Regions from separate parts of the Homo sapiens genome. Here region 1 is linked to region 2. A link means that fine-mapping ties the variant in region 2 to the expression of a gene that starts in the linked region. Tissue or cell type: spleen. Region 2 holds a variant in brackets; the other region holds the start of a gene. All regions are shown on one strand. Distances are between the middles of the regions.

Region 1 (8,178 bases), 98 kb after region 2:
CACACACACATACACAGGAACCGCTGTCAGTTCTGGAGGGAAAAGTTTACATTCCCTGGGACACAAAACCGGTAGGGCAGTCAACAGTCCTGAATGTGGAAATTTAGCTTCGATACTTTATCAAAAGTCCTCTTCCTCTATCGCTTTGAAATCAATTCAAAGGCTGCCACTTCCAGGAAACTGATGCAGAGAGGAAAGGCTCACAGCCAAGGTGCTCATGGCACAGAACTGATTTATGTCCCCTCCTATGCAAATATAAAGTCTAATTAGTTTGTCTTGAAAGGGAAACAGACCAATAAGCAGGATGATCTACTGTCATCTGAGTTTTGAAGCTGTCTCTGACTTTCCCATCACAAGTGTGGATATAATCCTGCAATTACGATAAAGCTAATTGGTAGTTCCCTCCTGCATGTGTGTTTTCGTGTTGTCAGTGGGGCAGTAATGAAAATGAATGCCACATTTGTGAACAGACCGTCTGTGGGCTTATTTACCGCATTTCCAACAACATCGTCTGCTTTATCATACATTTCAAAGCAGGGATAATTTAAGTATCCAGAACTTCATGCATAAAAATACTTGGTAAGAAGGTCTCTCTCTGCACACTATTTGGGTGATGTTACATCCGAATTACAGTTTGCTGCCCAGGAAATGATTCACTTCACTCAAAAATGACCGGGGTTCTGAATCATTCACCTGTTATGCAAAACGCCTTTCAGGTCAACCAATTTGCACCTCGTGGACTTCACCACCATCATTTCACAGAGAGCACAAAGATGAGGCAAGCCTTGCCTCTCCCATCTACATGTTTCCCCAAGGAAAAGCATGGCAGCAATTCACTCCCACCCCTCCACACCCCGCCTTACCTTGAAGTAGCTTTTCCCCTTCTAGAATATTTTGGGAGATTAATGCCGTGTAATCATCTTCAGAGAACCCAGCCTTGCAGGTCTCTCTAGTTGTAAGATCCTCATTATGGGCCTGAGAACACAAAGGGGAGAGTGTAAAACAATAAGTTCACAGAAATTTAATCCAACCAACATTCATCCAGGGCCTGCTGTGTAAAAGGTCTCTGGCTAAGAGAGAAAGGCTGGCAGGCCACCGTCTCCACCCAGACGCGATACCCCGTCTGCTCCTCTGCTCTCTGGGGACTTTAGGGAGCACTCTCCAGGCTACAGACCAGGAGCATCCTTCCCCAGCCCCACACACAGCAGGCAGGGAGTGAAGGACGGACTGTTGGGGAAGCCAGGCCGGCCAGGGCCTTATTGGCAGAGGAGACGCCTGAGAAATGACCAAAAGGCAGAGACAGAAGACTTCAGCCGCTGCTCCCGAAGCCACTAAGGGCAGGGAGGCCAAAGTGTGGGCGGCTCTGCTCAGACCATTCGCGCTTTAGGCCCACCGCTCTGCGCTCTTGGTAAGGCGGAGGAGGCAGCTTCTTGTCTCCTCTCCAGGTCACCGGGAGGGAGGAGAAAGAGGAGAGAAAGGAAGAAGATTCTCTAGGACTAGGTCCGGAGCCGGTCGAAGAAGGCAGCTCTGCGGGAGGCTGCCGGTGGCTGGGGTGAGGAGGCAGTGGGGGCGCTTCCACCTTCTAGTCTTCAGCCCGCATTTTCACCCTCGGAGCCCCCATCTCCAGCCCAGGCAGGGAGACGGCTCCCCTAACTGACCGGAAAGGGGGTCTCCTCCTGTCCTCCGGAGCTCGCTCGCCTTTCCTGCTCAGTGGGGAAGTCTAGAGCCCATGGCACAGGGCCAGGGAAGGATGGGGTGGACGACAGGGCCCTCCGACCAAGCTTCTGGGAGGGGGCGTGACAGGCAGGAGGAGGTGGTGGAGGGAGAGGCAGTGTGTGCAAGCGGGAAGCCAGCCCCGCTGAAGGAGCAGGAGCACAGCGGTGCTTGGCTCCCCGGCGAGCGCAGGAAGCCTCGGGTGCAGCCCGCACCGGGCAGTGGCGCCTCCCGCCCGCCGCCTCCTCCAGCTCCGCGCGCTGCCGTCGCCCGCCCATGCTTCGACTCCGGAGGCCGCCCCCAGCCCGGAGCTCCAGGCTTCCCGACGCCGGCACCGCGGAGGGCGCCCCTCTACCCCCAGCACCGAGGGAGGAGAGCGGGACGCAGGGTCATTCCTTACGAAAAGCTCTAAACCGCGGCTTTCTTCATCGGCCACGAAGCTCCAAATCGCACCCGCAGCCCGGTGGGAGGCTCAACTCGCCCAGGAAAGTTTCCGCCCGCCCGAAGCGTGTGCCCAGCGCGTCCCCCAGCGCCCCGCGGCCTCGGAGCGGGCCTCCCGCCGCTGGCACTTGTTTATTTCCGAGGTTACAACAGCGCTGCCCGGGAGAAGGCAGCGAGGCCGATCGGCCACGAGAGGGGGTTCCTGCAACTCCCGCCGCCCCTCCGCCTCCGCCCAGGGGCGCCCCCGGAGCCGCCGCGCTCTCTGCCCCCGCGGGCCGCGCACCTCGCCAGGCGCAGAGCAAAGCTGGCAATCCGGCCCGCGGGGCTCTGCAGAGGCAGCGGGAGACCCGCTCGCCCTCCCGGGGCGCCCTCCCGCGCCGCGCCCGCCCGGCGTCCGGCTTCCCGGCCCAAGCCCGGCCCAGCTCCCAGCCCCCGGGGCCCCGCCGGACACGCAGGCTCCAGCCCCGCCGAGGGCTCGGGGGTGAGAGTGCCCCGCAGTCCTACCCCGCCGCCCACCCGCAGCGCGGGTCCTGCCGGCACCCACAGAACTGAGCGGCGCCGCTAGACGGACCCCCAGGCCTTGGGCAGGAGAGGTCGGGCAGGCGCCCCGCACTCGCGGATCCCTGGCCCGCAGCCGCCGGGCGCCCCACGCCTTCAGCCACGGCCGGGGCTGGGCTCGGCAACTCCCGCGGCGCGCGGCTCCCGGGCGATGGAGGGCGCGCCGGCTCCGCCAGTGGAAGCCTGCCCCATGCAGGCAAGCCGAGCTCCGGGTAGCGGCTACGGGCTTTGGGCGTTCGAGGGAGGCTCGGCGGGTCCGGTGCAGGCGGAGCTCCCCGGGTCCTCCACCGAGCCCCACTCCCACCCTGCTCCGCCGCTCCCCGCTGCCCAGGCGGCTTCCCGCTCCTGCCGACCGCAGGCAGCTTCGCCGAGCGCGGGCGCCGGGCTGGATGCAGCGGGGAGCGCGGCGGGGGAGCCCGGGAGAGCCCCGCCGGGTGTGTGAGCGCCCCGCGGGATCCGGGGACGACCTCCCGCTGCCCGGGGCTTCCGAACGGCGGGGGCGGGAGGCGGCAACTTACCCGGAGCGCGCCGGAGAGCGAGAGCAGCAGAAGGAGCACGCCGGCGCCCGCGGTCATCTTCCCCGCCGCCCGCCCGGTGCCCGGCACCGGGAGCCCGCTCCCTGCCGCCGCCGCCGCCGCCGCCGCCGAGACCACCGCCGCCGCTCCGATCGCCGCCGCCGCCGCCGCTCCCCCGCGCCTGCCCGGAGCCTCCAGCCCCGCTGCGCCCGCCGCGCTCGCCGCCCCGGCTCCGGGAGCCAGGCCAAGTCCGGCCGGCGGCGCGTTCCCTCGGGCCGGTGCGTCCGCCGGCCTCGCAGCCGCCCGCGCCTCTGTTCCGCGCGCTCGGAGCTGCAGGTGAAGCCGCGGCCGCCCCGCCGAGGCCCCGCCCCGCCGCCCGGCCCCTGCGCTCGCTCTGCCGACGCGGGCCTTAAAGGCGCAGAGCCCGCGCCCGCGCCCCCCGCGCCGCACCAGCCCAGCCTCTGCCCTCCTGGACGTCTGGAGCCGCCCGGTTGCGGCCGAAGAGGCCAAGGACGCTCGTTTTCCAGGGGAAAAAGGCGCGGGTGTGGAGACTGAAGACAGCGCTGGGGTTTCCGCCCCCACACCCGGGGCACCCTTTCTGGATGGGGCGGTCCCGCCGCGGTCTTAGTCCGACTTCCCGCCCGGGCCCGCGGTGGGAGTGTGCACTTCCATTCTGTCCTTTTATTTTTCAGGTGTCTCCTTGCTAACTCCCCTGACCCGGGCTTGAACCCAGGTCGGGCAGCTCAGGGGTGAGAGTTTCCACCTGGAGCAGATGAGCAGAGGGCCACGCTGAGATTTCAGCCTGTGGGGCTTTGCAGACCCTCCCGCTCCTAGGAAAACTCAAAGCCCTGGCCTGGGCTAGGGATGTACCCTAGGATTGGGGACGGTAGTAATTCCTGTGTGTGCATCAAAACACCCTGTTAGGCCTCAGAAGCCAAGAAAGAAATTAGAAGCTCCAAGAAAGAAAGAAGTGCCCAGACAGGAGCTGTCAGGAGTGTCTGCGCCGACAGGCTGGGCCAGCTCCAGCTCCCTTTGCCCTGCATGGGTGATGGCTGAACTGGGGGGCACTTCTTTAAGGGTTATCAGGTAAAATATATGTACAGGTCGGACAGTGAGTAAATGTTTCTGCACTTTTCCTTTTGGCTTGGAGATTTAAAGAAACGCGGTTTTGTTTGTTCAGATACATCGAATTTTCTTTGTCTGGGGTTTCAGGGACTCTGTGTCCAGAATACATTAGTTCTGGTTTAAGAAATAGGTTGCAAAGGAGAGGGTGGAAGATTGAGTGACACTGTTGAGCTCCAAGATCAGAGTCCACTTGGGCAAGCCAGTAGAGAAAGCTACAGAGCAGCCGCTTCCCTCTCTCCCTCCCAGAACCCCCACCCTTGGGGGCAGGGTGGTCTCCCGGTTAGAGCTCTGCCTTACGCTTAAGGAAACCAGATTTTAGATAACCCCAGAGGACCAGAGTAAGCACTACATCCGAGAGCACAAGGCGAGATTCGGTTTTGCAACTTAACTATGGAACTAGTCAGGAGACACAAAATCTGCCCCAGCCTGGACTCCTATCAGTTATGGCCTTGTCCCACTCCCCACCTAGCCGAAGAAGGAGAGGTTACCAGTTGACATGGCTGGAGGTTTAGACTCACTCGAAGGTCCTGCGTAGCCAGTGAGGTTTCATGAACAGATCCATCCAAAATCCTCATGGACAGAGAATTCCATTCCTCGGCCATGTGCCCGTCCTTTGGGAAGACGCCCCCTCTGCTTTCCTCCTTATTCAAGGTGCTTCACCACTGCTCGAGCGACATCAGAAGCTGTCCAAGACTGCTTTAGACACCAAGACAGCTCTCTTGTCTTGTGTCCCTGGTCTATTTTCTTAAAATATCTGTCGCTGGGGATACACCTTTGTCTGCAGGAGGCCTGAGCATTATGCGAGTTATTTCTTTGGAGAGGCATCACAGACCCCCGCATTTGCTCCAACGTGCTCTGCGAAACTGTTGAAGCGCTGAGGAGCGCGCCAATTTGAAAAAGAAAAGGTATGAGTGTGTGGCAGGGAGACTGGGGTCCAGGAGCAGGTGGGTCCTGAACTCCAAACACTGTGTTAAGCACATCTCCCTCTACTACTGAATGAATCTTGAGTCTACTGCAGCGTGATTTCCAGAAAGGGTAGAGTTTGACAATAGCCTGTCCTTACAAGGTGCTAGCTATGTGCCAGGGACATGTGTAGGAGCTTTATGTAAAGTTGCTCTTGGAGTCCTTCTAACTCCACTATACAGTCAGGCAGAGGAGGGTGCAGAGGGCAGGCACGGGGAAAGCTGCAGTGCCAGCATTCTCACCCAGAGCTGGGACCCTGGCACACGCAGCATGGCCCCAACTTTGTTCAAAGAAACCTTCTTACACAGCTGTAATGTCTTACGGGAACTCGCATTTTCCGAAATACATAGTTTCAGAAACACTGCAGTAACTGACAGGAGTCCAGTAGAGAGCATTGGTTTATCAGACTTACTCTGAATGCAGCAGCAAAGATTGCTGAGACAGAAAAGAAAAATATGACCTAAAATACAAAGCAGTGCCTCCAAAGAATGGTCTTCAGCCTGTCACTCTGAGTGTGGTCCCCAGACCAGCAGCATCAAGATCCCCCAGGAGCTTGTTAAAAATGCAGAAACTCAGGCCTTACCCCAGACCTGCTACATTGATTCTGAATGCTGATGGGATTCCCCGCCACGCCCACCTCTGGTCTGCAATCATCTGCAACAAAATCACAGAGAAACTCATGAAAAATGCCAGTTCCTAGGCTCCACCTGAAATCCATGGACTTGGAGCTTTTGCAAGTGGGGCCTGGAAGCTGACCTTGTAACAATCTCTCCAGTCCATGCTCATGCCACTAGCATTTGAGAATCACGGCCTGTCCCACAGACAGTATGTCCCACGTAACAGAGCAGCAGCTGGAAGCATCAGAAAAATGCTCTCTCCTATGCCCCACCCTGGATTTCCAGAACCTGGACCTCCAGGGGTGGAGCCTGGGCCTCTGCCTGGGGTAGCTGGAGAAACCCTGGCACAGTGTTTGGCACATTGGCCAGTGGGACTGTGGCCTGCCTTTGGTCCACCCAGTGCAGGGAAGACCACAGCTGGCCTGGAGGAGGAGCTAGTCTCTCTGCACTTTGGATAAAGAGCCCTAGAAAAATGTGTGCGTTTGTTTCTAAGAGAGATTAAGAGAATGCATTTGGGAGGTAGTGTATAAGTGACTGTTTGCTCTCAACACCTGTAAACTGTTGACAGTAATTGGACTACAGATGTTTGCTAAGCTTGATAGACTTCTCTGTCTCCCTCTCGATGAGGTGAGTCTGGGAAGGGGTTCCTCTTTAGAAGCAAAAACCAAGTGCTTGTATCAGGGCCACATTTCCCTATATTCGTTGGATGTTAATTTGTTTCCTTCCCTATTGATAGTTATTATTGTAGACACTTCAATGTTCGACAAAAAGGCTGTTTTGTACAGAAAGCAGTGAGATGTTGGCAAAAGGTGTGTTCGTAGAATAAAACATTGTCTTTGTGGGCGATTGAAGATATTCAAGGCACTGTAGAAATGAATGGAATCAGCCTGCTACCCAGCTCAAGAAAACTCCCTGCATGCAATAGAGAAGAGCGATCTTAAAGCAAAAAGCAAAGGAGAGATTGAGAGGGGCGAGCAGGCAGCAGAGAGACCAGTACAGATCGCTCCCTGCCTTCCATTCCAATAACGCTCACCCGCTGAGGTGAAGCTACACTGGGAATAAAGAAAGGAATAGAGTTATTGTTGTAGGTTTTTCAAAATCTATCTTTCTCCATGAACAGGGATCCCTATGTACTGTGTGGCAGGTACTGTGTCGAAGGTTTTCAGTCATGATCCCATGCGATCCTCACATAGGACGGAGGTGGTGATGCCCATGGTCCACAGACAGGACAGACTTGGGTATGTGAGCAGCCTGGCCTGGGTCACCCGCCGGCACGGGGTGGGCTGAGATTCTACTCCAGGCAGCGTGACTTAGGACCTGGGGGCATGGCTGTGAGGTGCATCCCTTGGAAGCAGAAATCCCAGGGGGAAAGATGCAAATGTCCCCTTCCAACCTAGGGCTGTCTTCTTTCCTTTTCCAGTCTCATGCTCAGCCTGGCCCACTCGCCACCAGCAGAATCCTGACCCTCTAGTCCATCCAGAAGCACACGCCCCCATCCAGGCTCTGTGCCTGTGCCTCTGCTGCTCCCTCCGGAGCTCCTTTCTCTCGGAGCACTGTGTTGGCTTTAGCTGCTGCAGGGCTTGGTGGACACCTCTCTCCTCACAGTGTGGTGGAGCTCCTTTCTGTGTGTCCGCCCTCTGGCCACTCCGAGAGCCTTGAGGGTGGGGGAACAGGGTGTTCCCCTCTCCACATGTGGCCCAGGCTCTAACCCTCTAGGAGCCCCCAGGGGGTGGACCCATAAAGCAATGATACCAACGATGACCCCCACTGGCTGCACTGTACCCTGGGGTACTTCCTGCACTCCCCCATTATACAGATGAAGACACTGAGGCATGAAAAGAGGGGAGGAGCTTGACCTGGAACCCAGGGCTGGCTGAGTTCAGACTTACAGCCTTAGTCATGACTGTGCTCCAAAGAAGCACACCATGCACTCTGGGTTCTGAGGAAGAACCAGGTGAGGCTGCTTCTCTCACTCCCCTGGGACTTGGGGGTCTTTGAATCTTTGGAAATTTCCATGGAGCAGGAGATGCAATTCACAAGGGGAAAAAAATTCAAAACAAAACAGTCAAACCATGCAACAATCAAAGGTATCGGATCTGCTGGAGAAGGGAGATGCGTCCTGGCAACAGAAGATGGGGAGGGGCCGTTTTGAGATCCCAGGGCTTTTGTTTGTTCCATGTTGTTGCTTTGCTTGTTTGTTTCTTGTCTGCTGTTAAAAAGGGGGGAACACCAGAGGTGGGAGCAGA
Region 2 (8,178 bases):
TCCCTAGACGTTCTCGAATGTCCCTTGAGGGCAAAATCACCCCTCGTTGAAAACCACTGCCATAGAATCTTCAGAATAATCCCCATCCCTGTAAATTATCGATTCCTCACACCTACAAGCAGGAAAACAGAGTCCTGCAACACTGACACAGAAGATAAGTCCTTTCAGCACAAAGCAGGGCTGCTGGGGTGAAAAATCATCATTCTCCATTATGCTCAAAGATAAATTTCATTAAACCAACCAAGCTAAAAAGCAATTTTCATTTGCGGATGTTTCTAACGGGGCACATTCCAGGCTCTGGCATGAAGCGCTGTTCCCACCCAGTGGAAGGTGAACTGGGGTGAATCATCGTACTGCACTCACATCACCTTCCAGAGGAAAAGGGGAAGCAGGGGAGGAGGAGGAGGGGAGGAGGAGGGGGAGGAGGAGGGGGAAGAGGAGGAAGAAGAGGAGGAGGGGGAAGAGGAGGAGGATGAGGAGGAGGAGGAAGAGGAGGAAGTGGAATTAACCTGAATTGAAAGCCAGGATGCACAAGAAGTGACCAGTCTGAGAGATGTCCACTCTCAGTGCTGTGGAATATATTCGGTTTTCTGTGAAGATTATATTCTGCAAGGCTCAGTGTATTAAGGCAGCTTACAAGGTAAAGAGTTAGATAACGGTGGTGAAATAAATTTACAGGCCAAAGTCGCAGGCATTATGCAATGCGCGAAGGCTTGGCACATCGCTGGAGATTGCTAAATTAATTTTAATGGAAGAGGAAATATTAGTCCAGATACAGGCTGCTTCAGGGACACGCGGCTGCCCCATGGTTCCAGAGACCCTGGCACCTCTGCACCCCCAGATCCCCATTCACAACCTTGAGACCCCTCCCACCAACTAAGCTTTGCCTCCAGGGGAGGAAGTAGCACATTCATCATGTATATGCTTTCCACAGGTGGAAACCTGAGACACAGCAGAGCCAACACCAGAAGCGAAGCCTGTGGCTGGAGCAGAAGAAGCAGGACAGAGTCGGGCAGGCGAGAGCCCCTGTGGCGGGTCAGAAACCTGCGGAGCTAAGAGAGGGGAGGGGAGGAGATGGGGCCCGTGGGGTCCCCAGAGCCTGAGCTCAGCCCCAGGGGCCCCTTGGTCCGGCATGCCACACAGGCAGAGAGAATGTTGAGGCTTCCTGGGTCCTGGAACCTCCTGTGCGCCGCAAGGATGGGACATTGACACACTCCTTGTCCGCAGCGTCTCACAGGTGCACGGGGTGATGGGCTCCTGGCTGCACTGCCGGATGAAGAACTCCGAAGAGCAGAAAACCAGCAAGCGGCAGACGGCCAGGAAGAAAATGCAGTGCAGGTGACCGGGGGGAGTGAATGGCAGGCTAGGAAAACAACGCCTGCAAACCAACAAGAAACAGCCAGGCCCCCTAGAGAACATCTCCATCCAAGGAGAAATATACAAACAGGCTCAAACACGAAACGGCCTACCCCAGCAGAACCAGGCGATAGAAATCAAAACAAAATACAAAGCTTTGTTTTCTTTCCACCAGGTCAGAAACGAAAAGGGCTGGACGTCCCGCGCACCGGAGAGGCTGCCCCACAGGCGGCTCACACCCCGCTGGCAGGCACGGGGGCCAGTGCAGTCCTTTCTAAAGCAATGTAAAGACGTTTGCCACATTTTCAGACGTGCTCACTGCATTGTGGAAAAACACTGGCTCTCATGAGGGACAATGCTGGCAACAAACGAACGTCACCAAAAATGACTAAATAAATTTTAATCGGGGATTTTTTTTAAACGAGGTAAAACTCTTTGTTCCGACACGGCATGTATTTCAATATATATTAAATTTTAAAAGTAAGTTGCAGGACAGAAAGACAAACTTTGCACATTGTCACTTATTTACAGAAGCTAAAAATGAAATGAACTCATGGAGATAGGAGAAGAAAGGTGGCCAGAGGCTGGGAAGGGTAGTGAGGGCAGAGTGCAGACGGTGAGTGAGCACAGAAAAAGTTAGAAAGAATGAAGAAGAGCTAGGATTTGTTAGCACAACAGGGTGACTGTACTCAATAATAATCTAATTGCACACTTAAAAATAACTAAAGGAGGCCGGGTGCGGTGGCTCACACCCGTAATCCCAGCACTTTGGGAGGCCGAGGTGGGTGGATCACCTGAGGCCAGGAGTTCGAGACCAGCCTGGCCAACATGGTGAAACCCCGTCTCTACTAAAAATACAAAAATTAGCCTGGTATGGTGGCGCCTGCCCATAGTCCCAGCTACTCGCGAGGCTTAGGCTGCAGAATCGCTTGAACCTGGGAGGCGGAGGTTGCAGTGAGCCGAGATTGCGCCACTGCACTCCAGCATGGGCGACAGAGTGAGACTGTCTCAAAAAAAAAAAAGATAAATAAAAATAAAAATAACTAAAGGAGTGTAACTGGATTAGTTTGTTACACAAAGGATAAATGCTTGAGGGGACAGCATCCCATTGCCCTGATATGATTACGGTGCATTCTACGCCTGTATCAAAACATCTCACGTCCCCCCCATACACATACATACCTGCTGTGTAGCCTCAAAAAATAAAAATTACAACAAAAGTAAGTTGCAGAACTATATGTCTAGTAAATGTCATTTATGCCAAAGTATACAGCTGTCCCTTGGTATCAGTGGGAGACTGGTTCCAAGACCTACCACCGTGCATGCCAAAATCTGTAGACGCCCAAGTCCCTGATACGAAATAGCACAGTGTGTGCGTAGAATCCAGGCACCCCCTCGCATAGACTTGAAATCACCTCTGGATCACTTATATTATGGAATACAATGTAAATGCTATGTACACAGTTGTTAGATTGTATTGTGTAGGGAAGAATGACAAGAAAAAATCTGTCCATGTTCAGTACAGGCACAATTCTTCCTCCGAATATTTCTGATCTGTGGTTGGTTGATCCAGGGAGGCAGAGCCCTGCAAATGGCCATCACCTGACCTTCCCAGCATCTGAAAGCACGGAGGACAGCAGGCCTTGAGCACGGGCTGCCCGGGGATGGAGGGAGGGCGGCTGTGACACCCAAGGCATTGCCCCCACCACAGCTGCCACCCCAGCACCACCGTGAACACAGGTTTGTTGGCGTTCAGGATGCAGCACATGCCTGGTTCCTGCTTCAGACCGGCTCAGCCTAGAGCGATGGTCTCTGTATTGAGTCACTCTTCAATGTGTACAATATTTCCTTTCAAAATTATTCCTAGAAAATAAAAAAAAGGCAGCATGCGACATGCTCATGGAATCATAATTCCAAGTGAAGCTTGAGTTTCCAACACAGCATCATCTTTCCCATAAGAGTGGCAATTTTCCGCTCACAACACAACTTTTCTCCCCAGGCCACTTGAGGGCGCAGTTAGCACTGGGGGGGGGCCTCTGCCTGATGCTGGGTGGGAGAGGCAAGGTCAGAGGTGTCCTGCTGGCATCATGGCACTGGGAGAGGGCAGGGATCTGCCTGACTCTGGGTGGGAAAGGCAAGGTCAGAGGTGTCCCGCTGGCCTCTGCAGCACTGTGGGGGGCCTGCCTGACCCTGGGTGGGAGAGGCAAGGTCAGAGGTGTTCCGCTGGCCTCTGCAGCACTGGGGGAGGGGGAGGTGTCTGCCTGACGCTGGGTGGGAGAGGCAAGGTCAGAGGTGTTCCGCTGGCCTCTGCAGCACTGGGGGAGGGGGAGGTGTCTGCCTGACGCTGGGTGGGAGAGGCAAGGTCAGAGGTGTTCCGCTGGCCTCTGCAGCACTGGGGGAGGGGGAGGTGTCTGCCTGACGCTGGGTGGGAGAGGCAAGGTCAGAGGTGTCCCGCTGGCCTCTGCAGCACTGGGGGAGGGGGAGGTGTCTGCCTGACGCTGGGTGGGAGAAGCAAGGTCAGAGGTGTTCCGCTGGCCTCTGCAGCACTGGGGGAGGGGGAGGTGTCTGCCTGACGCTGGGTGGGAGAGGCAAGGTCAGAGGTGTTCCGCTGGCCTCTGCAGCACTGGGGGAGGGGGAGGTGTCTGCCTGACGCTGGGTGGGAGAGGCAAGGTCAGAGGTATTCCGCTGGCCTTGTGGCACTGGAGGGCGGCTGCCTCCTCGCCCACATGTGTCCAGTTCCTTCCTGAC[A/G]TGACTGTCCCAGTGGGCAGGGGCAGGAGGAGAGGGATTCCTGGGTTCCTGGCGCTGGGCTGAGTCTGGCACTGAGGCCACCACTCGCTCGAATGGTAGCATGAGCTGCCCTGCCCCGGGGGTGAGCTGTGCTCTGAGCTGGGTCCCACATGAACTTGGTCCTTTCCCCTCCTGGAAAACTTAGGAGCACATGCTCCTTTCCACGTACATGGTTGGCCTCAGAGGGGTCTTATTTGCAGAAGGATCAGCAAGACTGCCCCTGAGAGCCGTCTCCACGAGGGACTGTGTGATTCTTTATAACACAAGGGCGTGCCTCACGGGGCATGGAAGGGAGCTGTGGGGAGCCCCAGCTTTCACTCCACAGACCTCCCGATGAGGCCTGCTGTGCCATACCCCAGGTCCATACACATCCAGCAGCATCCAGCAACGGGGACATCAGCCAGCACCCCAGCTCCCGGCCTCGTCTGGATCCTGGCTCTGCGCTCACCCTTCCCGGGCACCTGCAGGATTTTCCCTCACTGACTTTGTAAATTAACTGGCTCACGCCTCAAGTGGGCATTTTCTCCCTATGATTCAATTCACATCAAACATTAGCTGGTGCTCAAGATGAAAACTTCAGCCCAGATGTGCTGAATCCTACCCAGCACAGGAGCTGCCACACCCGGCTGCGGAGCTGGGGCTGAATCCCAGGTTGCAGCCACCTTTCTCCCCAGAACCACCAACTCCACGGCTACGGAGCAGCCTTGGGTTGGGGCAGGTAGAGCATATGTGGCCCTGCAGGGTCCCCGCTGTCTGTTCCTGATGACCCAGCCTGTCCATCGGGGCTGCAGGCCGGTTCCTGAGAAGTGGCCCATGTTCCATATAGACAGGAACTCTGTCCCATGACATACGTGTGATCTTCCAAGCACAAAACCCTGGATGCTGGGGCCGCACAGCATAAAATAAAACAGGAAGCTAACTACATAAAGGAACAATTGCGGCACAATGTGGCCCTCCCACCACCACTGTTATTCCCAGAAGCCCTGGGCAGCCAGGACAGGAGGGGCTGCGGGTCTCTATGCCTCTTCTTTCAAATGTAGTCCCAAAACAAACGAAAAACAAACAAGAACTTTTAGAGACCCTGTGTCAATTACATCCAAAAATCCAAATGGCTTTCTCTTCCATACTTGAGAGAGAAACAGTTACTGGCGGCCATCAGAGGGTTTATTTCAAAGCCAGGAAGAAAGAGGCCCTTTGGAAGTGACAAGAGCTTTTATACTTCCTGAAGTCCTGTTCTCACTTCTGCCCACTCGTCCACCTGCCCAGGGCCATAAACTCCCAGCCATTTGGAGAGATTCAGCCAGATTATTGAAAGAAGATATCATGATACATAAACTGATCCTGGGTTATTTAAACACCGGAAGTGAAAGAAAATTAAAGAGAACAGAAGTGAAGCTCTCACTGGAAGCTCAGCTTTAAGATGAGAAAAAGTGGGCAGCATTCAGTCTCTCTAGGTCTTGGTGGAGGGAACCGCTGGCAACAGTTCCCTTGTCTCCTATTGATATGGTCTGGCTATGTCCCCAGCCAAATCTCATCTTGAATTGTAGCTCCCATAATTCCCATGTGTCATGGGAGGGACCCCGTGGGAGGTAATTGAATCATGGGGGTGGGTCTTTCCCGTGCTGTTCTCGTGATAGCGAATAAGTCTCATGGGATCTGATGATTTGATAAAGGGGAGTCCCCTGCACATGCTCTTTTGCCTGCCACCATGTAAGATGTGCCTTAGCTCCTCCTTTGCCTTCCACCATGAATGTAAGACCTTCCAAGCCATGTGGAACTGCGAGTCCATTAAACCTCTTTCCTTTATAAATGACCCAGTCTCAGGTATGTCTTTATTAGCAGTGTAAGAACAGACTAATATACCTACTCTCTCCAAATGTAGGAATGCTTACCATTATGGGGCGAAACAGACCAGTGGGAAGTCACCATGTTACAGGCACACCTGTTCCCAGAAGAAAGTCTTCCCCGATAATACACACGTGGGTTTCCACTCTTCCCTTTAACCATGGAAAGGGCTGTTCCTCATTTTAAGGACTTGTTATTCCCTCTGACTATCAGACTTTGCAGACACAGGACTCATCTGATATTCCAGGCACGGTTCAAACGCCATGCTTCCCACCTGGTTTGTGGGTCCCAATTCAAATCAGCTGAAGTTGAAGAGACCAATGTCCCGTGCCGAACCAGGAAAGCACACCCCGCCAAATGTTATGAGACAAAGAAGGCGAGTTGGCGCTTCGCAAACACCAGCCCCCGCCAGCTTATTTTGCCTGATAAGCATATACATCTCCCGACTAAGCTGAACAATGGACTTCCAGGTCCACGATGAATCAGAACAGCCTTATGTGTCTCTCAGCGCTCACACTAGAGGGAAACTGGAAAGGTCTAATTCATTTTAAATAGCACTGACAGCTGCCATTAATGATTCCTTCTGCGATCTGTCATACATATTTATATTTAGTCACCGCAGGAAGCATCGTGGGAGTCAATATCCTCTTACATTTTTTCTCTTTCTTTTTGGTAAAGTATGAAGAGGGGGAAATGTGTAGATAGTTTTGTTTTTCCTTTAAGCAAAATCCAAGTAAGAACATTTGGAATCATCTAAGACAGAAGCCTCATCTAATCTAGGTGTATATTTCTAAAACCACGTTGGCCATCACGCAGACTCAGCCGCCACTAGTAAAATGTGTGGAGCAAGCATTTAGCCAGGCAGCGGCACGGGCTGTCACCTGTCTTCTGAATGCGGGCAGGGCCTCACGGCCATGTGGGGCACGAGGCTATGACTTTGGTCTCCCACAGAGGTCAGGTTCTGAGAACCGCAGTCCATGAGTCAGGGGTAATGTAGGTTCCTGCTGGGAGTTCGGGCCCTACACTGGGTTCTACAGATGAAGTTAGTAAAACGTGGTACTGACCTTGAAGAACCCTTGGGCTAATGGAGGAGACAGCCATGAAACCATGTTATTAGACAATGGGAGAGATGGTTTATGAGACATGTGTGCCAATCTGCAGGGGAGCAAGCAGAACTGCCTGGGAATGTGGGATGGGGATGAGGGACAGATGGGGGGCACCCGTACGTGGAGTCAATATGATCTAATTCCCACCCTGGCCCACTCACCGTCGCCTCTCACCTGCATAGCGCAGAGCCTGGCTTCCTGCTGCACCCTGGCCCCCGGAATCCATTCTCATGCCACAGCAGAGGGGTTAATTTTTTTTTTTTTTTTGACAGAGTCTCGCTCTGTCACCCAGGCTGGAGTGCAGTGGTGTGATCTCAGCTCACTGAAACCTCCGCTTCCTGGGTTCAAGTGATTCTCCTGCCTCAGCCTACTGAGTAGCTGGGACTACAGGCACGTGCCACCACGCCCAGCTAATTTTTGTATTTTTAGTAGAGATGGGGTTTCGCCATGTTGGCCAGGCTAGTGTTGAACTCCTGGCCTCAGGTGATCCGCCTGCCTCAGCCTCCCAAAGTGCTGGGATTACAGGCGTGAGCCACCATGCCCGGTCAGCAGAGGGGTTAATTTAAACCTCAAATCCAACAGCACGTTCCTGCTCAGACCCTCCAAAGCCTCCTCATGGCCGTGGGAATGCAGCCCAAGCTCCTTGCTGGGGCTCCCATGGCTGGCCTGGCTGATCCCTGCCTCCCTCCGACCACACCAACCATGCACTGATTCTACTCATGGCCCCTGGGGCCGTCTTGTGGTTCCTCTAGGACCTCCTGACTATCCTGGTCTCAGTCCCCTGCCTCTGCTGTTCCCTCTTCCAGACACACTCAGCCCCAGGGCCTGACAGAATGGAATGACCACCTCACCCTGAGAGAGACTGTCCTGACTGCACATCACCCCTCAGCCTCCAGCCCATGATGCTGGTTTCCCTGCAGCATTTATCCCGCGTGGGTTAATTTGTCCCGCGTGAGCATTTATTCTGCTCACTGTGTACTTCCCTGTGTGTTCTGCCTCTCCCAGGGGAGTGCCACCCGCATGAGGAAGGGAGAACGTGCTGCCAGAATGCTTACAAAATACCAGGTCCACAGCAGGTGCTCAG

Evidence for each region. PIP is the estimated chance that this variant, and not a neighbour inherited with it, causes the effect.
Region 1: CDH4 starts here. The variant in region 2 is fine-mapped to the expression of CDH4 in spleen (GTEx, PIP above 0.99).

The regions. Positions count from the first base shown.
Region 1 is chr20:61,247,623-61,255,800 of GRCh38, reverse strand. CDH4 (cadherin 4) reads right to left here and starts at 3,540. Exons shown (of 16, transcript NM_001794.5): 1 at 3,231-3,540; 2 at 864-975. The coding sequence starts at 3,287. RefSeq lists an enhancer at 744-1,436.
Region 2 is chr20:61,345,925-61,354,102 of GRCh38, reverse strand. The region is part of intron 2 of CDH4 (cadherin 4); the gene reads right to left. Among named protein-coding and RNA genes, the nearest start is that of CDH4, 98 kb to the right of the region's middle. RefSeq lists an enhancer at 1-380. The variant A/G (reference allele first, on the strand shown) is at 4,105.